Homo sapiens: one gene and its partners. The protein of the gene in region 6 interacts with the protein of the main gene of each other region in a biochemical or structural test. Each region holds a gene or a part of one and is shown on either strand. Other genes may lie near its edges. The genes, in order: DLG2, FRMPD2, DLG5, CARD11, PARD3B, ADGRA3 and PDZRN4.

Evidence for each region.
Region 1: the proteins of ADGRA3 (region 6) and DLG2 interact in a test that uses a peptide from one of them, tested with the Homo sapiens proteins (one large-scale study listed by IntAct).
Region 2: the proteins of ADGRA3 (region 6) and FRMPD2 interact in a test that uses a peptide from one of them, tested with the Homo sapiens proteins (one large-scale study listed by IntAct).
Region 3: the proteins of ADGRA3 (region 6) and DLG5 interact in a test that uses a peptide from one of them, tested with the Homo sapiens proteins (one large-scale study listed by IntAct).
Region 4: the proteins of ADGRA3 (region 6) and CARD11 interact in a test that uses a peptide from one of them, tested with the Homo sapiens proteins (one large-scale study listed by IntAct).
Region 5: the proteins of ADGRA3 (region 6) and PARD3B interact in a test that uses a peptide from one of them, tested with the Homo sapiens proteins (one large-scale study listed by IntAct).
Region 7: the proteins of ADGRA3 (region 6) and PDZRN4 interact in a test that uses a peptide from one of them, tested with the Homo sapiens proteins (one large-scale study listed by IntAct).

The regions. Positions count from the first base shown.
Region 1 is NC_000011.10:83,454,673-83,458,008, forward strand, and holds the end of DLG2 (disks large homolog 2), read right to left. Parts: 3' UTR 501-3,336; downstream 1-500. UniProt on the Homo sapiens protein: Required for perception of chronic pain through NMDA receptor signaling. Regulates surface expression of NMDA receptors in dorsal horn neurons of the spinal cord.
Region 2 is NC_000010.11:48,236,697-48,240,196, forward strand, and holds part of FRMPD2 (FERM and PDZ domain-containing protein 2), read right to left. Parts: intron 2,997-3,500; coding exon 2,909-2,996; intron 1,428-2,908; coding exon 1,295-1,427; intron 1-1,294.
Region 3 is NC_000010.11:77,804,756-77,808,255, reverse strand, and holds part of DLG5 (disks large homolog 5), read left to right. Parts: intron 1-311; coding exon 312-460; intron 461-1,327; coding exon 1,328-1,498; intron 1,499-2,084; coding exon of another isoform or gene 2,085-2,160; exon of another isoform or gene 2,161-2,357; intron 2,358-2,394; coding exon 2,395-2,591; intron 2,592-3,500. UniProt on the Homo sapiens protein: Acts as a regulator of the Hippo signaling pathway.
Region 4 is NC_000007.14:3,037,368-3,040,867, forward strand, and holds part of CARD11 (caspase recruitment domain-containing protein 11), read right to left. Parts: intron 1-3,500. UniProt on the Homo sapiens protein: Adapter protein that plays a key role in adaptive immune response by transducing the activation of NF-kappa-B downstream of T-cell receptor (TCR) and B-cell receptor (BCR) engagement.
Region 5 is NC_000002.12:205,612,475-205,615,974, forward strand, and holds part of PARD3B (partitioning defective 3 homolog B), read left to right. Parts: intron 1-2,981; coding exon 2,982-3,339; 3' UTR 3,340-3,500. UniProt on the Homo sapiens protein: Putative adapter protein involved in asymmetrical cell division and cell polarization processes. May play a role in the formation of epithelial tight junctions.
Region 6 is NC_000004.12:22,408,067-22,411,566, reverse strand, and holds part of ADGRA3 (adhesion G protein-coupled receptor A3 precursor), read left to right. Parts: intron 1-3,500. UniProt on the Homo sapiens protein: Orphan receptor that may have a role in planar cell polarity pathway.
Region 7 is NC_000012.12:41,509,820-41,513,319, forward strand, and holds part of PDZRN4 (PDZ domain-containing RING finger protein 4), read left to right. Parts: coding exon 1-94; intron 95-3,500.

The DNA of each region.
Region 1 (3,336 bases), on a different chromosome or scaffold from region 6:
ATTTTTCTGTATCCTTAATATCTTCTGGAATCCCACAGTTTGACACTGGGAAATTGATTTTTCCCCTCACATAGCTGTGAGCATCTTTAAAAATCTATCTTTTAATACATTGTTCACTTTTGGAAAAATCCCGATTAAAAGCAGGCAAGATGGTAACCAAATATTTAAGAATATGCAAAAACAGCACTTTCACTTCCTCTCAGCAGTGCCAATACTTCTCAGGGCATACCCACCCTAATTGCATTTTAGCTCTGGAATCAGAGACAAAATTGATAAAAATAGACATGAGTGATTCTATTCCTTATGAAATAAGACAAATTATGCTTTGGGAGAAAATCATTTGCCATAAAGTATAAAATGTTTTAATATTTATATCTTATAATAAAACCATGACATGTTTATAAACACTCTATCAGGCATTTTTACAATGGGGCCACCCACCGCTGACAACTAGAAACGCAATAAATATGCACAGACACACTGAGTATGAAATATACATCTTGATTTTATAATCGTGTGTGCTTTATTTTTTACACAAATGGAATGGAAGTGTTGAATATTTACACTTAACAGGAGTGTAAGCTGTGCAGTGTCTCTGTAAACTCCAGCCTAGGCAAGGAGTATTCCCACCTCCCTCCCATCCTGTGCTACAGCTCGGTGGAGAAACATCCTGTCAGAGAGAAGCACAAAACTGTCATATTGAAAGGATCTAACGGGTACAGCCTGGTGCACTCAGAAGTTAAGAAACACTTAGGAAACACAAACTCAAAAAGGAGAGAAGAAAAGTCTGCCATCCCATTGGGAGTCAACCTTGCCACTTGGTTGTCTGTCCTCATGAGTTGCTAGGGAGATACTATACTCTTTAGATGATCTTTGTCTAAATTGTCCGCCTGTCTTAGCTTTGTCCTCAGCTGTTACAAGAAACTGCACAGCTGTACAAGAAATGATTTCCAAAGCACAGGTTTCAGTGAGGAAGGATATTTACAGACTTGAGTGTGTGTGTGTGTTTCCAACCACAGTCATTCATACTCAATGTAACGTGTGTACATGGTATACATACCATATATACCATACATACACAGAAGTAAAATGTATATCACAGAATTCTGTAGGGAGTCCCCTGGCAAGTCAGCTGTCACAGGAGGTACTCCACATGCTTCAAGGGAATTGATCTTTTTCCCTCTAGGAGTAACAAATTAATGTGATCAACTTAGGAATTAGCCTGAGTCCTTGGCTTAAATATATTTGTAGGAATTTAGGCAGGACCAAGACAGGAAAGAAGAGATTTCATTTCACCAGCAAGTCCATTCAGTCTCACCAGAGCAATCACCAGCTGAAAAGCAGAGGGGGCTTCACATAAAAATGGGAAAAAGAAAGCTTATGAATGGGAAAAAAATGTCTCTCTCCAAACCAAGGTGATGGCATGGCTTCAATGAGGAGGAAGAGGTTTGCTATCAGAATAATTGGGGCCAGAGTCTGCCTTTATTGAAAGAAAATGTCCTCAGAGCCATGCGGTAGTGCTGGGAGTGGGCTCGCTTAGGAGCAGTGTTCAGGCAGAGGCACTCAGGCGCCGGCAGGGCCCACAGCACATGCATCATCGCTGCCAGGGCAACGGTGCAGGCTGGCTCCGGGAGGCGGGCTGGAGCAGGCTCCAGGTCAGGGCCTCACGCTCAGCTTTACTTTCTGGGCTGAGTAGGTGAAACGGCGACCTAAAGTATTTGTGTCATTAGTCCAGTGCATGGACTTGCTGTCTGAATCAGCCATGAGCCCTTTAGAGGACAGAAAAATCAATACAGGGATGTACGGGAGAAGATGATCAGAGATTTGAGGAGAGGAGAAAGGACAGAAGAGGAATAAGAAGGGCAGAGAAACAGAGACTAAAGGAGAGGTGGACAAAAAGAGAAAGGGAATAGAGAAGGATTATAGGAGAAAGTCAACAACTCAGAGATGGTGGGAAGGAGGAATAGGAAAAGGAGAGGAACAAAAAAAAAAAGAGATGGAATTAGTCGGAAGTAGAAGGAGGAGGAGAGTAAGGAAAAGAATGAGAAAAAAAGTAGAGTCTCGAGCCAGAGGTTGGAGAGTTCTTTCCTGGCTCGGAGTCCTGAAGGGCCGGCAGTAGGATCTAAGACAGCGCACAGAGGCACCCGAGTGCAGCTTTGTGAAGACAGGCTCTTTAAGCAGACAGAGCCAACCCAAGAATTTGGGGCTGGGAAAAAAGGCCTGCAAATAAATAGCCAAGAAATCCCGCAAAAGGCCTGCAAATAAATGGCCGACAATTCTGTGGGAGGAGAGCAAAAAACAAATGCCTCTGCACTTAGCTGACAAATGGAATTTTGATTTTGGTAAAGCTGAGACCCCCGTGGTGCTACACATTGTACCAGAGCATGAAAAATAGCACCAGTTACACGATCTGGCACTTTTCTGAAAGGGCCCAGCATGTGTGAAGGTGACATTGCACCCCCAGCAAGCCTTCAGGTTGGAGAGAGCTCTGGACAAAGTTTGCAGTGTTAGCACCAGTCTGGCCCCAGGCTCCGAGTGCATTTGCACCAGATGTAATCTGGGTAACTTTCATGCCATTTCCATACAAGTCATCAGATTTGCTGCAAAATACACCAGTTCATTGGAGCCATAGAGACATCAACATTGGGAAGTGCAAGACAACACAACAAATGGAGGTGTAAATTCTATTGGAAAAGACCCTCTCACCAATTTGCTTGGTGATTCTTCAAGCAAATATATATGTATCTATATATTTATATAAATCTACATAAAAAAATCAGTGCAAATGCCAATTCTAATCTGAAAGCATCTACACTAGGAAAATAAATAGTTATATTACTACAAAACCAAGGGTTGGTGGTTCAATTTGATTGTACTTAGCCACAGCAACACTAGTAAATGGAAAGCACATCACACGACCCGCGAAAACATCTACTCATTAATGACAGTCTTTTAAATAAATGGTTGCATGCTCAGTTGAGAAACCAAAGAAGTTATCGTGGTGGCCTAAAAATAGAGCTGGGATCAGGAATGGCATTCTGGTGTCAGAAAACTTCTGGGAGCAATATTGATGAAAGTAGGCCTTGACCTGAAACTGGCGAATTGCAGACATGGACATATCTTTAACATTTTGAGCAATCTAAGGAAGTCTCTGGAAATTTAACTTTCATGAGAGGGAGAATGCATTGCTAGCCCTTCCATTGGCAAAGGAAGCCTCAGGACTATGGGAAGATGCATAATTTTGCATTTCTGTTTTGTTTTGGTGACTGTAGCCAGGCAGACAATGATGTTTAGCGTAAGATGAACAATGCCTGTTTTTGGAAAGAGACTCTCATT
Region 2 (3,500 bases), on a different chromosome or scaffold from region 6:
TGGGCTGAGGCCCCAGCTGAATGGTACATCTTGGAGCAGAAGTCTTACAGGTGGGTATAGGGTATCAGCAACATTCTGGCTCTTAAGTTGGGTACAGGGGTGTTCGGGGTGAATTATAAGTTTCATAATTTACACAGAACTCCATCTTTTGTATGTATCAAAAGTATAAAATGTATAATATAAATATAAATGCAATAAAAATACTTGAAAAAACAAAAATACTTTTAGATTTAGATGAGCTGAAATGTTTTCTAGCTCTAGATGTTGAATCAATAGCTTAGTGGGCACCTCTTGTTCTCAGTGTGTTTGTATTACACTTGACCCAGAAAACACTGCAATACCCATCACTAGCTAGACCCAGCTATCCCCCTGTGGGGTGCATATTCTCAACCCATTTTACAGGTGAGGAAGTTGAGGCTCCTCACCTTTAAAAAAAAAAAAAAAAGCTTAAGAAGCTCACCTGAGTCATATAACCAGCAAGAGATAGGGTTGGGTAGGGCTTCTATAGTGCCCCCAAGGGTACCTAGCAGGACTCTTGTCCCAAGAGGCCAAAATTCCAGCCCAGAAGTGACTTGTGTCCTGCAAGAGTTCCCAATAGAAGTATCTCTAGTGAGTGATCAGGAAGAAAAGCCAAAGGAGGTGGACAAAGCCTCTCAGAAGCCCTCTTCACGCCCTCCACCAAGTTCATGGAGGCCAGAGAAGGGCCAAGGAGGACAGTGCGGGCCAGGCCAGCGTATGGGAACCATAGGCCAAACAGGAAGAGGGACATCCTGAGGCTATTTGGAGCTCAGCTCAGTCAAGGGACCTTAACTAACTTTGACAGACAGACAGGCACATTCCGCCTAACCCTATTACCCTCTTAGGGTTAGCCAGCTGGAAGGATAACTCTCTCCTCCCTATAGAAGCCCTCCCTGCGGCCCTGGATCTATGCTCCCACCTTTCACCTGTGCAGAAGGCCCCTTCCAAACACATTCTGCCTTGTCAGTTCTCGAATCATGTAGCACGCTCTGCCACCACCCTGCGCACCGGTGGCTTCCTCTAGGGTGGGACCCAGCATCTTTAACCCTACATCTTATACAGCGTCCCCCATAGAGCCTTCCCCAGTGAGGCTACTCAGTGAATGCCTATGCCCTAAGTTGCAAATTTCAGGTTTATGTTAGTCCAATCCTATAAACCTCAGCCCAGGGAAGTTGTCCCCTAGAAGACCCTGCCCATTTTCAGCCACCGTGCCAGCCACCCACAGCTCCCTGCTCAAGCCTCCTTGAGGAGTGTCCTTCAGCCTTATTTTGCTTACCTTGCTCCTTCTTTGCAGAAAACCCCTCTGAGAAGGAGTTGTTGGCCATGAGCTGTCTGCTGCCGAGTGCACAGATCCAGAGCTGAGCCTCCGGCCCGCCTGCTGGTCCTGGGGATCTGCTCCTGGAAGAGCGCTGGCCAGGGGTTGAGAAGGGGTGAAGCACTTAGCAATGGCAAGGGCTTCCATGGCATGAAAGACCACCCGCACAGGGGCTCAGTTGGGCAGGGTGCACCCACTGATGCATGTCACCTTCTCCCCCACCTATGGGGGAGTTATATCCATTTTTCAAGTGGGGGAAGCTGAGGCCTGGAGAAGCCAGGCTGCACAGCCACTGGGGTGGGGTGGGGTTGGAGGTACAAGGCACAGTCGACTTCTCCACCCCATGGCTTTACCTCTCTGTTTGTGGTGCCAGGACCCCAGGTCTAGAGCAACCACCCAGCAGGTCATGGGACTGCAGCAGTTCTGGCTTCTTTAGAATTTGATATGTTGTTCAAAATATTTTGACAATAAAATATATTGTTTAAGGAATCAGGGGGTAAAAATTGTTTTCATTGGGAAAATAAAGTTTTAAATGGCAGGAAAAAGTATTGCAAGATAAACTCTACGATATCCAATCAGGGCGTCAGCTGTGGATTTGACATCAACTATGACAAGACACTGTTACAGCCCTCAACAGGTCACCATGTGAATAAATAAATCACCCAAACTTCAAAATAAACACCGTTCCAGGTCCAGGAAGATATGAGCCCATCTAGGTTTTGATCTGATTCAAGCATCCTAAGTTAGACAATTGCAAAAATGTCCACAGTTCTTCTCCCTGATCTGCACCCTTTGCAATCCGACTTTGCAGCCTCCTGCCATCAAGAGATGGAGTCTATTTCTTACTCCTTGAAATGGGGCTGGCCTTTAGGCCTGATATGGCCAACAGAATGAAGTGGAAATGATGGAAGACCAGTTCTGAAGGCTTTATGCACCTTGCCGTCCTCTCTCCTCTCTCTCCTCTTTCTCTCTGTCTCTCTGTCTCTCTCTCTCTCTCTCAGTTCCTCTCTGTCAGTTCTGCCATTGTCACGAGAACAATCCTAGGCTGACCTGCTGGTGGAGGAGAGCCAGAGCTTCCCAGACAATGGCCATTCACCCCGCAGGAGAAGCTGGATAGCCGAGCCGAAGACAGTCAAAAAGGCAGGAAGGCTTTCAGCAGAGTCTAGAAGACCTCCCAGCTGAGCACAGCCTAAATGACCAACTCACAGAATCATGAGCTAAATTCATAATTGTTGCTTTTAGCCACTGTGTTTTGTGGTTGCTTGTTATGCAGCATGGTATGGCAATGGATAATGGCAACAATATTGAGGCATGTTGTTGCTCCGCCACTCGGCCTGAGTATGGTTCCCAGAGGAAACAGGATGCCCTGACAGCACAGCTGCCACCAGGCCCCTCATTATCTTGGCTTCGGATCTGCTTAAATGTGGCTTCTTCATCTGTTAATGGAATAGCATTGGCATTTTCTGGAGGAGCAAGAGGCTTCTTACTAATAATCAGTAAAGAAATAAGGTACCATAGCCCCCACACCTATGTCTCACATCAAGTTCACAGCACCCTTTAGGCCTTGCTGCTTACCGGTTAACAAGGAGGCTGCAGTGACTGTGTGTCAAGGTGCTCCAATGGGGCTCTGGTGAGCTCTGGGTCTCCGTGCTTCTTTCTGAAACTAATCAAGCAGCATGGTAGAGGGTATGGGCAGAAGCCAAGATCACGGCTTTCTTAAATCAGGCATCTCAGAGCATGAATGGCATCATGACTTACTAGCTGTGTGACCTTGGTGAAATTCCTTAGCCTCTCTGAATCTGTTTCCTCATGTAGAAAACAGAAATGACAGTTACAGAGGGTTGGAGGGAGGGTTACAAGGGAAGATAAAGCCTAATGGCAAAGTGCACTTTGTTTTAGAGACAACAAACAATAACATTAATTTTTTTAAAAAAAGCTCAGATTTAGTTGAAAAGTAGAGAACAGTAGATTTGAAGATTATTCCAAAAACCACTCTTTTAACACACCCAGAACAATAACTGAAAAAAAAATCAAGTTTTTCTTTTCTTGTTGTTTGTTTCAATTTGGATTTTCTCAACTTGGACAGTTAGAACTCATTTTTAAAGTTTTCATTTGATATAAATAACTGTGTTGTGTCCCCAAATAAGACTTTCCTGGGAACACAGGT
Region 3 (3,500 bases), on a different chromosome or scaffold from region 6:
ATCAGCAAGAGGAAGGTCCCTATTCTGAAAAGCCCAGACTTGCCAGTCACCAGAACAGGGTTTTTCCTGGATAAGCTGTCAAGGGCAGGGCAGCCACTTGGCAGAGGACCTGGTGTCCAGGGAGCATGCACAGGACCTGGAGACTGGGGAGACCATGAAGACTCAGTCCTTCCTGCAGAGGGGAGGTAGCCAGAGTCTCAGTTAAGGAGGGATGTTGAATTTCTGCCGTATGGTCAGCACTGGCCCCTCTCGGGTGCCCAAGCTGCCCCCTGGCTTCTGCCTTCTGATGCATCCACCCCCATCCCTGGCAGTATGGCAGCCTGGACGTGCGGAACAAGACAGTGGAGGAAGTCTATGTGGAGATGCTGAAGCCCAGGGATGGCGTCCGCCTGAAGGTGCAGTACCGCCCTGAGGAGTTCACGAAGGCCAAGGGCCTGCCTGGTGACAGCTTCTACATCAGGTACCAGTGGCTGGGGAATCGGTGGGAGATTTGGAACCAGAGGAGAGGCTTTCACTGGAGACTCTTTTCCTGGTGAATGGCTCTCTGTTTCTTGCCCCCCAAGGCTGGGGCCATGATCATCATTCCTTGACACTCAATCTGCACGCTTATTTATGTTGAGATGATTGTGACTTAGAACAACCCTTTAGGGCTTAAAGAACCAGCTGGGCCCCCTCTTTAGGGCTTAAGACCTAGAGAATTTGGAGGCAGTCAAGCCCCGTTTTCCTGTGTGCTGTGCTCCTCTTTTTCTGGTGTCCCCCAAGCCAGGTTTGCAGATCCCTCTGCAGTGTGTGTGGACTTCCAGGCATCTTCAGTGCCCTTACTACTGTATGAAATGCTGTGGGCATTTAGGGATGGCAGCAGGCTTTCTAGGAGGAGCTCAGAGCTTTCTTCACATTTCCTAAGATCCAAGATCACAGAAAGCATGAGAACACTGATGCGGTACAACTCCCTGTCTCTAGGGTAGAAGATGACATATTTCCATCCTAGAGAGATTCCAGTCTGTAGGAACCAGGGGCCGGGCCTGGGCTTCGAGGAGGGAGGCAACTGGGAAAGGCCACCTGGAAAGGGAAGTTATGGCCTCAGATCTTGGTGAGTTCTTTGATGGGGATGCGCCCTCAGTGTTAGGGGAGCAAAGGCAGTCTTTGCCCCTTTATGTAAAACACAGGGCTCCCCACTTTGAGAATCACCACCCTCGGCGATTCCTGATCAAGTTTGGAGACAGCCCAAAGCAGAATGGCAGCCTTAGGGGCCTGGCCACAGAAGGCACCTGGTTCGTCCTTGGTGGCCAGAGCCGCCTGATCGTGTTCCTTCTGTGCTGTGGTCCAGGGCCCTGTACGACCGGCTGGCAGATGTGGAGCAAGAGTTGAGCTTTAAGAAGGACGACATCCTCTACGTGGATGACACCTTACCCCAGGGCACGTTCGGGTCCTGGATGGCTTGGCAGCTGGACGAGAATGCCCAGAAGATCCAGCGCGGGCAGATTCCCAGCAAATATGTGTAAGTGTTCTCCGGGCCTGGGGTGGGGTGGGGCAGGGGTCGCCGAGGGCCACCAGCCATGGAGCTGTCCCATGGGAGGGGGCTGGGGCCAGGGCTGCTGGAGGAGGGATTCTGCTTCTTATCTTAGCTTCTGCTCTCTACATTTTGCCAAAAGTGCTGGTCTAAAAAGCTGCTCCTAGTGTGAGTCAGTGCTGTATAGAGCACAGTGATGGGTCAGAAGGCATAACGTGTTTTAGAAAAATGGATTTATGGAGATACTCGTGCCTTGCCGCTCCCTCAAAGTGTACCATTCAGTGGTTTTCAACATATTGATAGGTGTGTGCAGCCGCCACTACAGTTAATTTTAGAGCATTTCCATCACCTCAAACAAACCCCAGACCCATTAGCTGTCAGCCCCTTATCCCACTGTCCTCCCACCCAGCCCTCAGCCCTAGGCAGCCACTACTTTACTTTTGATACCCATGGGTCTCCCTGTCTGGACTTCTGTGTGGTTGGGATTGCATAGTGTGGCCTTTCATCTGGCTCCTGTCACTGAGCATGTTTTCGAGGCAGCCTGCATCCCTGCATCATTTCCCTTCTATGGCAGGAAGCGTAACTCGTCATGTCACCAATTGAAGGCTGTCCTAGCAGTTCCTTTTGACACCGAGCTGAATATGCTGTAGTAGAAAAAATCGCCTGCTCTGAGAGCTTGCCCTGGTGCTGGTGTTTGTGTCACCCCCGCAGCATGTACCGAGGGTTCCCAGGGGCGTGGGAGGAGATGTAGCCTTGAGACCTGCCAAGGAGTGTGGGGGGAGCCCAGTGTCTGGCCCACCTTTGCTTTTCTCACCAGGAAGGGCAGGAAGGGCAGGGCAGCAGGGTCTCGATGGCCCTGCCCAGCATTGTCCCCTGTGCCACAGGATGGACCAAGAATTCTCCAGGAGGCTCAGCATGTCTGAAGTCAAAGATGACAATAGCGCCACAAAGACGCTGTCAGCGGCTGCACGCCGGTCCTTTTTTCGGAGGAAACACAAGCACAAACGCAGCGGGTCCAAGGACGGGAAAGACCTGCTCGCCTTGGATGCCTTTTCCAGTGACTCCATTCCACTCTTTGAAGGCAAGTGGCTGAGCTCATTTTCCAGTGGGCTCTCCAGATGGGGCTTGCTGTGGATCCAGGAGCTCCACAACAGGGACTTAAACAAAAGAGAGTCTTACTTTGCTTTTGTGCGCAAGTCTGAAGGTGTGTGTTCGGCTTGGTCGGGGGGTGCTGCCATCTTCAGAGCCACATCTATGGGGTGTGGCTTCCATCCTCCCAGTCACCGCCTGTCAATGCAGCTGCAGCCATCATGTCCCTGTTTCAGGCAGCAGGAGGAAGGAAGGAGTGGTAAGGCAGAAGTGTGCCTCAGCTGAGCGTGCCTCTTTCAGCAGCTATCTGGAAGCCCTAACCTGTGACTTCAACTTGCATCTCATTGTCCACTTGCATGTGCAAGAGAGGTCAAAAAGGCATGTTTTGGCCAGGCACAGTGGCTCACACGTTTAATCCCAGCACTTTGGGAGGCTGAGGTGGGTGGATCACCTGAGGTCAGGAGTTCAAGACCAGCCTGGCCAACATGGTGAAACCCTGTCTCTATTAAAAATACAAAAATTAGCCAGGTGTGGTGGCATGCACCTGTAATCCCAGCTACTTGGGAGGCTGAGGCAGGAGAATCCCTTGAACCCAGGAGGCGGAGGTGCAGTGAGCCAAGATCACGCCACCGTACTCCAGCCTGGGTGACAGAGCAAGATCCTGTCTCAAAAAATAATTAAAAAGAAAAGGCATGTTTTAGCTGGGTGCATTGCTGGCCTCAGTAAGAGGTTCAGTTACTGAGGAAGAATGGAGGGATAGCTATTGGGTAGGCAAGAAGCAATCTCTGCTGAGTGCCTTGCTTGCCATTTGTTTTTAGGTTCTTACAGGCTGCTTGGTAGTGACCAAGAGCTGTCGGTTTCTGCAGAACTTCGGCATTTCTGGCCTCAGTCCTGTGTTCAT
Region 4 (3,500 bases), on a different chromosome or scaffold from region 6:
CAAGAGTTCTTAGTAAATTAAGGAAATAGCTCTTTGCCACATATACTCTGTTTTGCATTTAGCTCATCTCTCTCTGTTCTCCCTCCTGGCCTCTGAATAAGCAAGTCAGAAGTAAAACTTAAAAGCAGAAGCCTGCAGAACCCCTTGACACATTTGGTGCGTTTGGAAACACTTTGGTCTATGCTAATCTAGGGGTGGTATCATTATTATTATTAATTTGTGATAGAGTCTTGCTCTGTTGGCCAGGCTGGAGTACAGTGGCACAATCGTGGCTCACTGCAACCTCTACTTCCCGGGTTCAAGTGATTCTCCCGCCTCAGCTTCCCGAGTAGCTGGGATTACAGGTGCTCACCCCCATGCCTGGCTAATTTTTGTACTTTTAGTAGAGACGGGGTTTTGCCATATCTCAAACTCCTGACCTCAGATGATCTGCCCGCCTCGGCCTCCCAAAGTGCTGGGATTACAGGTGTGACCCACTGTGCCCAGCTAGGGGTGGTAATTTTATACCCATTTTACACGTGCAGCAATTGAGGCTCAAAATCATCATGTGACTTTGTTGGGGTCACCGAGATTGCAGGCAGTGGAGCCGGAATGGGCACCTTGTCTGTCAGGCTCTAAGTCTGTAGATCTCTCCAGAAAGCAGGTTTGCCTTTTTTTTTTTTTTTTTTTGAGACAGGTTCTTACTCTGCTGCCCATGCTGGAGTGCAGTGGTGCAATCACGGCTCCCTGCAGCCTCAACTTCCTGGGCTCTAGCAATCCTCCCACCTCAGCCTCCTGAGTAGCTGGAACCACAGGCGCATACCTCCATACCTGCCTCATTTTTAAATTTTTTGTAGAGATGGGGTCTCGCTATGTTGCCCAGGCTGGTCTCGAACTCCTGAGTTCAAGCAATCCTCCGCTTTGGCCTCCCAAAGTGCTGGAGTGCTGGGATTATAGGCATGAGCCCTCGTGCCTGGCTTTTTATTTTTTTTTAATCTTGCCTCTTAAGGAATGAGGCCAGTCCCAGGGGACGGCAGAAATCATAACCAGCATTGTCCTGGCAGGTGTTGCCTTTGATACCACCATGACCGAGGACATGGCATGGGGCAGCCCCCATTCTGCTGCTGTGATACTTGGGTATAAAGACAGCAAATTCCTCAGTTGCAGAGGGGCAGGAAGGAAGATGACATGCTAGACACAGAAACCACACAAAGGAGGATGGAGCCCTGTTTGTGAGCATGGATACTACACATGCCCCTCTCTGGCTCTCACACTTGCAAGAATAATGCCCACTAAGGAATGGCCCCGGCTGGGCCAGGAGGAACCCAGCACTTTGGAGGAATGACTGTGCTTGGAGTAGCAGGACAGGGGAAGAAGAAGTGACAGCCACACAGATGGGACTGGAAGGACTTTTATCACCCTCTGGCTCTCGGCCACCAACACCTATTACAGAAATGTGACAGCAACCATTATAATCTCTGAGCCCTTGAACAAATCACAACCCAAAAGGTTACCCTCCCGAAAATAATCACCCCATTAAAACCACTGACCCAGAGAGCGGCAGTCCCTCAAGGAGAGAACGCAGACAAGGCATGGGGCGTGTTCTTTGTATGGAGCGTGCAGTGCCCTGGCCGTGATTTTCTTATGTGGCCTGCCACAGGAAGAGGCTGGCATCTGGAATCTGTGCCTTCTAATTTTTATTCTTTTCTTTTTTTTTTTTTTTTTGAGTCGGAGTCTCGCTCTGTTGCCCAGGCTGGAGTGCAGTGGCACGATCTCGGCTCGCTGCAAACTCCGCCTCCGTGGTTCAAGCAATACCCCTGCCTCAGCCTCCCGAATAGCTAGGATTACAGGCGCCCGCCACCACCCTGGCATAATTTTTTTTGTATTTTTAGTAGAGACAGAGTTTCACCATGTTGGCCAGGCTGGTCTCGAACTCCTGAACACAGGCAATCTGCCCACCTCGGCCTCCCAAAGTGCTGGGATTACAGGCGTGAGCCACCACGCCCAGCTGCCTTCTAATTTTTCTTTGGCAGAAGAGCATGTTTAAGGGGCTCCCTCGAAGGTTCTCTTTTCCTTCTCTTTTTGTTTCTGTATTTCAATCAATCGATCAAAATATTTCCTTTCTTTTTTTCGTTTTTTTTTGTTTGAGACAGGGTCTCGCTCTGTCGCCCAAGTTGGAGCGCAGTGGTGTGATCTCGGCTCACTGCAACTTCTGCATCCCAGACCCAAATGATCCTCCTGCCTCAGCTTCCCAAGTAAGGAGAGACCCCTATGCCTGGCTAATTTTTTAGTATTTTTTTTGTAGAGACATGGTCTCATCACGTTGCCCAGGCTGGCTGGTCTGGAACTCCTGGACTCAAGCGATCCTCCTCCTTGGCCTCCCGAAGTGCTGGGATTACAGCCATGAGCCACCGTGCCCAGCCAATCAAGCTATTTTCTAGACTGATTGGGTACTGCCACCACCAAGAGTGAGGGTTTTTCTACAGGGTAGATTGACGGAGCATCAGCTCGGTCTGTGATTTCCTTGGGCCTCATAATTCCCCCGTAAGATTGAGATTGCAGATAAGGAATCTGAGGTTGCACCAGAAAAAAGTAACGAGGTCCATCCAGCTGGTGTTTGCGGGGATACCGGCACTGCAGCCCTGGGTCTGGACTCCAGGGTCCAACCTCTGATCTGCTCCAGACCTTAGTCATCACGGCAAAGGTAGTCCTAGCTCATATGCCGCATTTTCTCATTTTATGCTTGGTGTAACTGACAATACTGAAAATAACCAGTATTGATATCCTGATTTCATTAGAGAAATGACTCTCAGAGAGCTTAGGTGACGGGAAGCCTGTCTAAGGTCACACGGCTAGCACAGATCAGTAGTCATGCCTCAAACCCATGCCTTCATGGGCTCCAACCCAAAAGACGGAATGCTGCTGGAGGCGCTGCCTGCAAAGCAGATAGTGCAGGGCCTGGCCAAGAGGGAATGGAAAGTGTTTTTTTGTTTTTTTTGTTTTTTTTTTTTTTTTCCTTTTTTGGAGACAGAGTCTCACTCTGTTGCCCAGGCTAGAGTGCAGTGGGGCAATCTCAGCTCACTGCAACCTCTGCCTCCTAGGTTCATGCGATTCTCCTGCCTCAGCATCCCGAGTAGCTGGAATTACAGGCGCCTGCCCAATTTTTGTATTTTTAGTAGAGATGGGGTTTCACCATGGTGCCCAGGCTGGTCTCAGACTCCTGACCTCAAGCGATCCGCCTGCCTCCGCCTCCCAAAGTGCTGGGATTACAGGTGTGAGCCACCGTGCCTAAAGGCGGTTTTTAAAATGGATTCGAAGAGGCTCCATTTTTCAGCATTTGACACGCCTTTTCATCATCATCATCTGAAAATCGGGACCCTATTTGGCCTTTCATGCCCGACATGCTATGAGGAGCTACAATCACAAGTGCGTCTTCAACTCCACGGCCTCTGCCAGCCACCACCAAGCCACAGTCACACAGCCCCTCAGTCCCAGGAAGCAAGCCTTTTATCGGAAGGGTC
Region 5 (3,500 bases), on a different chromosome or scaffold from region 6:
ACACATAATAGTCAGAAGAACTTAGAAGTTGTTCTGACAAAAGTCTGTAGGAAATTCTGTTATGAACAAAATGTTGTTATAAACAACAGCTACACACCATCCCCCAAAATAAAGAAAAATTCTTCTAGCACTCTTTGAACCTTAAACAGTGTTTTAGTAGGCCAACTCATTGTTTTTCTTCTCTCTGAAAAATTAAAAATGCTAACTGTTATGATGAGTTCCACAGAAAAAGACAATTTCCATGACTTCATTTCTTGACAAAGAACAGCTACCTCTCTTGCTTTCTGCCACATACAAGCAAACTCCCAGACATAAAACCTCCCCTCAGAGGAAGCAATATGGGACCACAAAAGTATCTTGAGGTCTGCCCTATCTGCCCACGGGAAGCCTCCCCCTCACTGTGAGCTGTGAGCACTGGCTGCCTGGGAGGAGCAAGGTGTGGGAGAAGAGATAGCGACTGTCCCCCCATGTGCTCGCCGACTGTACTGTCACAACCTCTCAGGGTGGCTTCTGCCCTGTCACCACTTGATCTGGATTCTCTCTCCAAAAATTTAAAAAAACAAGGCGTGCCTGTCTTTTATAATGCTCTGTTTTAAGAGAGAGAAATCTCCAGGGAGAGAACAGGACCCTAAAAGTCCAAGGCCTGGAATTCTTCCTTTCTCTCTTTCCATTTTAAACAGGAAGCATTCATGCTAAGAGAGTCCGGAGGGAGGGCTGGTTGTATGTTCATTTGAAGGCAAATAATGTTTGTGTGTTGCAAATGTCAGTGATTTATCCTAAGGGCTTAAAATGAGTGCAGAAAAACCACATGTTTCACTTCATGCAGAGAAATATCTTCAGTGGATTTTGAGAGAAAGTACAGGTTAAGAAAAATTTTTTGAGTGTATCGGATATCTCCAACATGAACCAAAAGGAAATGAAAATGAGCATGGTGAGGTGGAGGAGAGAGACTTAAAGAATTCTTATGATAAAAGATATACCGAAGGCTGGAAGTTTTCTAAATCAAAAATGAAATTCTAAAGAAAGGGAAAGGTGAAATCCAGAGCCTTTATTTCCCATGGCTAGAGTGACAGATTATCCATTTGTGCTCCATTTGTCATGGGCGATTTAAAATACAGCAAAGCAAACTGCACTGAATAATAGCAGCTGATGCTATAATAACTTGTACACAAACAATTTAATTTTTTATCTGAAAACTCTAACTAAATTACCCCAAGCTCAAGGATCTTTCATTATTATACATAGCCAAATTAAGACAAAAAAGTAGAGAGAATTCTATTGTTCATCCTTATAGATTTGTTCACAAGCTGCTTTCTACATGCACCGAGCTGGGAGCTTGTCAAATCTTCATTGATTTGAGCAACTTACAGAGCTGTTTTAACATCCACCTCCACAGATTACAGGGTGATTCTGACCCTCATTGACAGTGCTTGATTAACCACAGACACTGTATTCTCACAGCCCTGTCATTTCTTTCAAGTGTCCTAGCAGTGTGTCTGACATTGGGGAGCTTTCCCTTAATTATTGTTGTTGTTTTTCTTTTTTAAAAATTATAAAAGGGGGAGTGGCAAAAAAATGGGAAGGATCTGGGGATGGTGGTGGTGGTGAATGTGTGCACAGAAGGTTTATGAGATTTTAAGAGCTGCAAACAGAACTCATCTGTTTAACCCCAGGCTAGATAAAATGCAGTCATCTGCACATTGTTTAGAGGCACACTGCTTCTGTTATGGCAAACGGATCAGAAGATGCTTGTTTTCTTTAGTGAGAGATCCAGACAGGGCCACTTTCTGTTAGTGTCTATTCTTACCCTGGATGTTTCTGTGTGCCTTACCCATTACAAGGTACAACTTACAGCTGGTTTGGCATTTCCCTATTCTGCTACTGGACTGGTGCTACTTCCTGGCTTTGTGGTAGAGTTGATTACTTTATATCAAAGCTTTAGGTGTGGGCTGGGTGCAGTGGCTCACGCCTGTAATCTCAGTACTTTGGGATGCCGAGCCAGGCAGATCACCTAAGGTCAGGAGATTGAGACCAGCCTGGCCAACATAATGAAACCCATCTCTACAAAAAAAAATACAAAACTTAGTCAGGTGTAGTGGTGGGCACCTGTAGTTCCATCTACTCGGTAGGCTGAGGTGGGAGAATCGCTTGAACCCAGGAGGCAGAGGTTGCAGTGAGCTGAGATCGCACCATTGCACTCCAGCCTGGGTGACAGAATGAGACTCCCTCTCAAAAAAAAAATTAAAAAAAAAAAAAGAGCTCTAGGTGCTCTGGCTTGGGACTTTTTCTAAGGACTGTAGAGCATTTAGGGAGGGGAGGGACATATGAATCCACACCAAGATGTAACAGCAGCCAACCAGAGTTAGACCAAGATGACAGCCCGTTTAAAAGAGCACCTCACAGATTTAGAAAAGCGAGTGCAGTCCATGGAAACTTTATGACTCCAAATAACCTGAACATTTCTATCACCATGCCTAGGACAGACTTCAGCCCAGCCTGTCCTGGATATGGTGGTAGAAAAGGGGAGGGAACTAATGACCCCATCCTTAAGAGAGGCAAACTCACTGCCTTGTTTAGGAAACTAGTTTGGTTACTATAATAAAGGCCAACAGAAAAGGGTATAAACCAGATTGAAGTGTATTTTCCTCTCATGCACCAATGTGAATGGAAGCAATCCTGATTGACATGGTGGCTCCATGGCAACGGGGACCCAGGCTCTCACCTTCTTGTTGCTCTGCCTCCCATAGCACGTGGTTTTCACCTTGTGGCCTAAGATGGTTTTTCTGCTGGCCAACAGGAAGGAGAGAAGGGAAGAAGTTCCCTTCTCTTCTTTTTAAGGGCACGTATCACTTCTGCTCCCATCCCATTGGCCAGACCTATGCGGTGGCCACACCAAACTGCACAGGAGGCTGAGGAACATGTTCTCCAGCCGGACGGCCAGCTTAGGAGCTGCTAACATGTGTCTCTTCTTCTCTTTCCAGGGGAGGACCCGCAGATCCTGTAGACTATCTGCCAGCAGCACCTCGGGGGCTCTACAAGGAAAGGGAGCTTCCCTATTATCCAGGGGCTCATCCTATGCACCCTCCCAAAGGGAGCTATCCCCGCCCCACAGAGCTCAGGGTGGCAGATCTCCGGTATCCTCAGCACTACCCACCCCCGCCAGCTCCCCAGCACAAAGGACCCTTTCGACAAGACGTTCCGCCTTCCCCTCCCCAGCACCAAAGAATGCCAGCCTATCAGGAAACAGGCAGACCAGGGCCCCGTGGGGGCAGCCCAGACCAGTACCCTTACCGAACCCAGGATTCCCGGCAGAAGAACCCCATGACTGCAGCCGTATAGCTGAGTGCCACCGAGGCCAGCCCGGTCCAGAAAGGAAGGTGTCTACTCTACCTTTGCCCTTTCTAAACCTGAAGACCTCCTTGGTGTTAGGAATTCTCCATGTTACTGATAAGCTTTTTCTCACTGACATTGTAACGCATGACTGCTAATCAGAGAGAAAA
Region 6 (3,500 bases):
AGTGCAGTGGTGCAATCTCGCCTCACTGCAGCCTCTACCTCCCAGGCTCAGGTGATTCTCTTACCTCATCCTCCTGAGTAGCTGGGATTACAGGCAGGCACCACCAAACCCGGCTAATTTTTGTATTTTTAGTAGAGACTGGGTTTTGCCATGTTTCCCAGGCTGGTCTTGATCTCCTGGACTCAAGTGATCTGCCTGCCTCAAGCTCGGAAAGTGCTGGGATTATAGGCATGAGCCACTGCCACCTTTTAAATTAAAGCATGAAGCGTTAAAGTATGTGGCATTTTCTCTTCCATTTTGAAAGTGTTTTCTCATTCAGTTTTGAATATAAAATAAACTGTGATGTACTGATGAGAAATAATATTCAACATTGTCAGAAATTTATAAGTTAACAAGAAAAAATTGAGCAAAATAAATGAAACACAAAACATACACAAAAATGCATTTTATAAGCCTTCGCTGTGATATTGCACCATGTGAAACTTTTATTTTTATTTAGTCTAATACCAGTTTAAAGCATCTATTTGTGAACTTCCTAGCTGTTCTTCAAAACTATTAAATTAGTATAATCCTTTTCTGGAAGGAATAAGCTATTCTTTTATCTTTCAGACTTTTAATCTCTTAAAAAAATGTAATACACAATTCTTTAAAGTTAAAATACTGTAGTACTAAGATTTTTTTTCTATTTATTTTCAAAGACTTTTTCCTTTTCTTAAATGTAATTGTGCCATCTAGAGGCAGCAAAGAGAAATGTATTTGAAATTGTTGACAAAATTAAAGTTACTGCATGGGAGTTAGTTGCTAATTAAACATAAAGAAAAAGTTAATGAAATTATACCCACTTTTAGGTAAAGTTATGTTTAGGATTGAAAAAATTGTTTTTAAAAAATTAGAAAGCAAATTAGAAAGCAGTGTCTTTTTTCCTTATATTAAGCTTTTAAAAATTGATAAAATCCTATGTCTCTTGAATACCATCTTAATATATCCTTTTATATAGTAAGTCTAAATTCCTATCTTGGGATATAGTCCATAAAACTTTCCTTTATCTGATTTTAAGAGTTTTGAATTTTTAAAAAATGCGACATAAAGAATATACTTGTTCATAAATCTGAGTATACATCCTGCTATACCAGTTATTTACTAAGGTCTCATTGGGAGCCAGAAAAAAAAATTAAGCAGAAATTAGGTTTGCTTGAATGATATGATCTGGAATAGCCAGGTGGGGCAGGAAGATTCACAGGAGCTGGTGTCTGTAGGAAAAAACAAAGAAAGAAAACTGAATAGAAAGTAGGGTTATGATTAGGTTCAAACTATGTAGTGCTTAATACTTTAATCACTAGTGGTGAAGATAAGCTAATTTATATACATTGATTCCTCTTTTGTTGTGTTCACCTAAAAATATGAAACTAGAGAGCATTCATTAATTTTCTTTTTCTAGTGATTCTTTTACATTTGTTTATATAAAACATGCTGAATACCATCTTAATATGTCATTTTATAGATTAAAATGGTATTCAAAGCAACTTTGATATCATTTACTCTATAATTGAACATAAATGCTAGTGATGTTTTTGTTTAAATAATTTTAAAATAAGTACTATACTCACATGGATGTAATGTTTTATTTATTTCTACACATTAACATACAGTGAAAGCTGGAAGTCCTACCTATCTCTCGTATCACACTGATAAGTAACTACTGTTTGTTTCTCGCGTATTGTTGAGGAGACCCTCGTGTTTATGGAAACAAAAATGAGTATATGTTCCTATTTTTTTGCATTTTTGCACAAAGGTTGCATACTACACACACTGTTCTAAACCGTGCTTTTTTCTGTAGAGCAACATTTCTTAACTATGATGGTGATAATGTATCTTAAAGAAGAGGATGGTGATGGTGGTAGTGGTGGCCAATCTTTATTAAGCACTTATGTGTCAGCCACTCCTCTGATGTCTTTATATACATTCAGTTACTCAGCTCTTATAACAGCCTCATGAGAAATAGTACTGTCATCACCCCCACTGTACAGATGTGGAAACTGAGGCAGAGAGAGGTTAAATGCCATGCTCACAAAGCTAGTGCTGGTATTGGGATTTGAATTCACAGTCTCATTTTGGGATCTGTGTTAATAATCCCTCTGCTAAGTCTCCTTTCTGAAATCCTCTCAATATACGAGTTTCCTCATTCTTTCTTATCTCTGAATATTATGTTTCTACCATAATTTATTTAGATATTTCTCTATTGTGTTTGTTTCTAGTGGTTTGTACAGTGTCATTTTGCACATTTAATTGAGCATCTGTGAGACAAATTCTCCAAAGTGGAATTGATAATCAAAGGGACCAACTGGTTTAAATTGAGGTATTGAGCAAAGTGCACAAATATTGGTTATATTTTTACAAAAGAATGTATAAGAACAAGATTTGTAGTAGAGTGCTGGACAGTGCTCCTGTGTTTCTCTCTAGTCAGTTCCTGCCACCATCTCCAGGAACCACCCTTTTGATGTCTCTCACTATAGATAGGTTTGGCCTGTTTTTAGACTTTAGTTGTGTAGTATGTACACTTGTGTCAGGTTCTTTCCTGTCATTACATGGTTGGAATTTATCTTCATTTTTGCATTTAGCAGCAGTTTATTCTTTTCCATTGCAGTGTAGCAGTCCATTGTATCAATATGCCAAAGTTTGTTCATTTTATCATTGATAGCCATTTCTGTTTCTAGGTTTTGGGTGTCAAGAAAAAGCTGCTGTGAGTACTCATGTATATGTTTTATGATGGACATGTACACTCAGGAGTGAAATTGCTAGATTGTAGGCTTTCCATGTGTTTAGCTTTAAGTAGCTAAAGCCATGCAGTTGACCAAAGTGGTTATGTTGGTTTACAGTCTCAACAGTAATGAGAGTTCCAGGTGCTCTACATTTTGACCATGCTTGGAATTGTCAATCTTCAGTTTTAGTCTTCTGGTGGTAGTGTTGTGATGTATCATTCTAGTTTTAATTTGCATTTCTCTGGTGACTATTGATGTTGAGCACTTCTTTAGCTTTTTATTGGCAGTTTGGATATCCCCTTTTCCTGACGTTCCTGCTCAAGTCTTGCCTATTTTTAATTTTGTTGTCTTTCATTTTCTTAATTATTTATAGGACTTCTTAATATGGGTACTGAATATGAGCTCCCTGTTGGATTTATGTGTTGCATACATCTTCTCCCAGTTCATGCCTTTTTTTTTCCTCAATATTGTCTTTTTATGAACAGAGTTTCTTAAATTTTCTGAAGTACAATTTCTTGGTTGTTGTTGTTGTTTTAGTTAATGCTGTTTAAGAAATTTTTCTACCCCAAGATTATGAAGATCTTCTTTTTTGTTCTCTTCAGAAGCTTTAATATGTTTTACCTTTTATATTTAGTTCTGTAATTTGACTGGAATTGATTTTTTGTTGATGATGTGAGGTAGGGAGAATAAAATCTTTAAATTTGTATTCTTTGTTCCTTAGTGGGGAAAAAGCAACATAGA
Region 7 (3,500 bases), on a different chromosome or scaffold from region 6:
TCTACATCCAATGGAGCATGAATTTTATGAGGACAATGAGTATATTTCCAGCTTGCCTGCTGATGCAGACAGAACAGAAGACTTTGAATATGAGGTAAGGTCATTTTCATACCACTTCACATTTCTTCATGAAGTTACGGTTGAGGGGTTTTGTATAACAAAGAAATTAATTTATTACAGTGAGAAATGTCTTGTCTATTACATATCCAGTGTAAGATCTTTCAAATACTATTTGCTTTAGCTATGTGGCTCTCGTGTTTTAAGTATATTGGAAAATATTTTTATAGTATAAGCTTAAATATAATTTGCTCTCATTTTGTTGCTTTTTAATAAATAATATTGCAACAGCTACATTTTTAAAATCTGTTCTATAATATATGTGGATTTCCAAGTGGAGTTTGAAAAATATATTTAAAACAAAGATTGTGTTTACTATTTTCATTTGTTGTATAATATTCTAATTTTCATTGATAAACTAAATTTTATTATATTGTATTCTTTGGAAATGCAATACTCTCTTTGTGCCTCTGGTCTGTACTCTAAAGAGCCATTTCACAGACTTCCTAGAAATAGAGATGGCCTCATGCCCTTTGTTGTTAAACTATATTTATTCTTCACATGGTTTAATGTCAGAATATCTGTACTGTGATATATAACAATTCGAAAAGTCCATCCATTGATTATTTAAAAGCTCTCACAAAAGTTAAAGAATGTATCCTAATATTTCCTCTGCTTCTGCAGCCTGAATATCTTTGAAAGGTTTCAGACTACTCTGACATTTAAAAATAAAATAGATTGAGGAAGTAAAGAAGCTTTGGTAAACAGGCAGAGAACCCATGGTCACCTGCCCTTTTAATGCTTCAGGTGATGTCATACAAGTTCAGCAAAGTGTTCTCTTCCACTTTACAACCAGGAAATCCTGAAATCTCTTCCCTTAGGAGGATCTGAAATCAAATAAGGAAGCTCATCTAAAGCAAATGGACGTTTGTTTGAAATCTTCTCCCCACAAAAGTCATTCCTGGGGATTACAGAAATCATTATTTCTTTGCAGCCAAAATTTAGAAGGATGTGAAATGACAACTGGTAACTGAGTAGATGGTTTTTGTCATTCTTGTGTTGTTCATGTTAAATTTTTACCTCCTCTTTATTAAGTTGATTGAAAAGTTTTATTTTCTAAATCTACTCAAGCACTGACATGCATTACAATATCCATTGCTTTGTCTATTCATGTAAAATAAATTATAAAATTGAATGACTTATCCAAATAATTCAAGATTCTTATGTTTTCCTTTTGGTTAATGAATACTTTCAGTTTGGGGACTGGAATTATGTAGATCACTTCAACTTTTTATTTGGATGCCTTAAAGCTTTATTAAAATAAGTCAGTGTGCTCGGGGAGGGCATAGGGGAAGATTGTTTAGGCTAAGCAAGTTAACAGTAAAAGCCCTTTAAATGAATCAGCATGTCATTGAAATATTACAATACAGACAGATTTCCTTACATTTCTATGGAGCTTACTGTAACTGAACCACAACCTCTTTTTTGACCAATATTAATCCCCAGCAGAAGCCAGCATCAGGATGATGTCAGTGGTGAATTCTCAGACAAGCTCTCTGTAGCCTGTAATCTCAACTAATCACAGCATCATAGTCATTAATTTGCTGTCAGCTGTGATTCCGTTGCCAAAGGCTCCTTTCTGAGTGATTGAAATAAAGAATGTTCCTGTGAAATTCAAATAAGGAAGGAGTTGCTATGACAGTTTTCAATCATTAGAAAGGATGCATTTGAGAACAACATGCATGGTTAAAGGTGGGAGTGGAGGCATGGGAGAATACCTCCAGAGAAATTTACCAGATTCAAGAGAGAATAATGGTTCTGCCCAGTACTCCTCAGTCTGTTATCATTATGTGACACACACATAGAGTGGCACATGCCATCCCTTGTGGCTGCATCAAACTGCAAAATCTAGTCAGTCCACTGCCATCATTGGAGCCTGTGGTGGACACCATTAGGCTCATTCAGTGAAGAGATTTAGAAATGCTAATTCTGTCTATGTGTTGCACTTTTACTGTTACACCTAGAAGCAGACTGATCTGGTGTTTCTGTGACCAGCTGAGATGACCCTAGCTCCTCTAGGAGCTTCCTTATAACCCTATAGCTCTAGGAGCGGGATGGATGAGCACCTTAAGGAAGTACCAGTTTTGTGCCACTGAGAGAATATCACAGGAAAGTGAGGTTTAATGGCCAAGAAGACTTCAGCTCAGAAAGAGATATGCATTCCTCTTCAACCTAAACATGAGCACAACCAGGCAATCAAGGAAGTAGAAAGAAGACTCCTTTTTCATCTGCTTTCATTCATTTGTACCATAAATATTTAATGAGGACTTAAAATGTACCAGGCAGTTATCTATGCATGGGATTAGGAAGCTCCTGCCCCAGTGGAAGGAGCTTCTAGGAGAGGGAGGTCAACAATAAACATAAAAGTAAAGACATATTCTTTTCAATGGTGAGAAGTACTAATGGAAAATAATAAGAGTGGTGTTGGACAGGATGTTGCTGTCTTATACAGAGTGGTAATGCAAGACTTCTCTCATAAGAGAACTAAAGAATATAAGAGATCTAGCCATGTGAAAGGAGATTTTCAGAAAGAAGGAAGGGCAGGGGCAAAGGACCTGAAGCAGAAGCATGCTGGGGTGTACAAGGAGTAGCAAAGAGACCAGTGAGAGAGTGGAAGGGGTGAATTCAGAGAAAGGAGGGTGTGTTTTGTGGAGCCTTTGGCTTTGACCATGATATAGGAAGTTGCTTTGACTCTGAGATGGGAAGTTGCTGGAACATAGGAAAGCCATAACAGGATTACTCCAGCTGCTGGTCTGAGACTGACAGGAAGGAAGCAAAGTCAGCTGAGAGGGAGTGGGGTATTGGACCTGGGCGGTGATAGCGGGTGGAGTATGTATGACATAATCTAGGACAGCATCCACCCCAGCCTGGAGGGCTGTGCCTCAGAGCTTCAATATAGTTTGTGCTATGGCAATTTTCTTCTGACATTTTAATGGCAAAATATTACAGGTTAGAGTGAAGCACACCTTTTGGCATCCACCAGAGCAAGAGCAATGCATCCACACTTTAAAAGAAATAGCTTCTAGTATATAGACTGCATTTCTGAACTTGCTAAAATACAAACTATGCGGCTATTTAGGTGCCTTTTTAAAGACCTACTTACTATTAACTCAGTGAACCAAAGCTGATCTGTGTATCTCGTGAGTACTTATATACAGACTTAGTGCATGGATTATTAACCCAATAGACCAAAACAGATCTGACTATCTTGTAAATACATATTTAGGGACTTTTAACACACATATTATTTCACTGATGGACTGTAACAGGTCCCTTCAGAGCCACGGCAGACAAGCAAATGCTTCTTTGGAGATATTATACTCAGTGTCCATGTTATGGTGACTCTGGTGTGTTAGGAACCTCTATGAAAATTTAATGACACC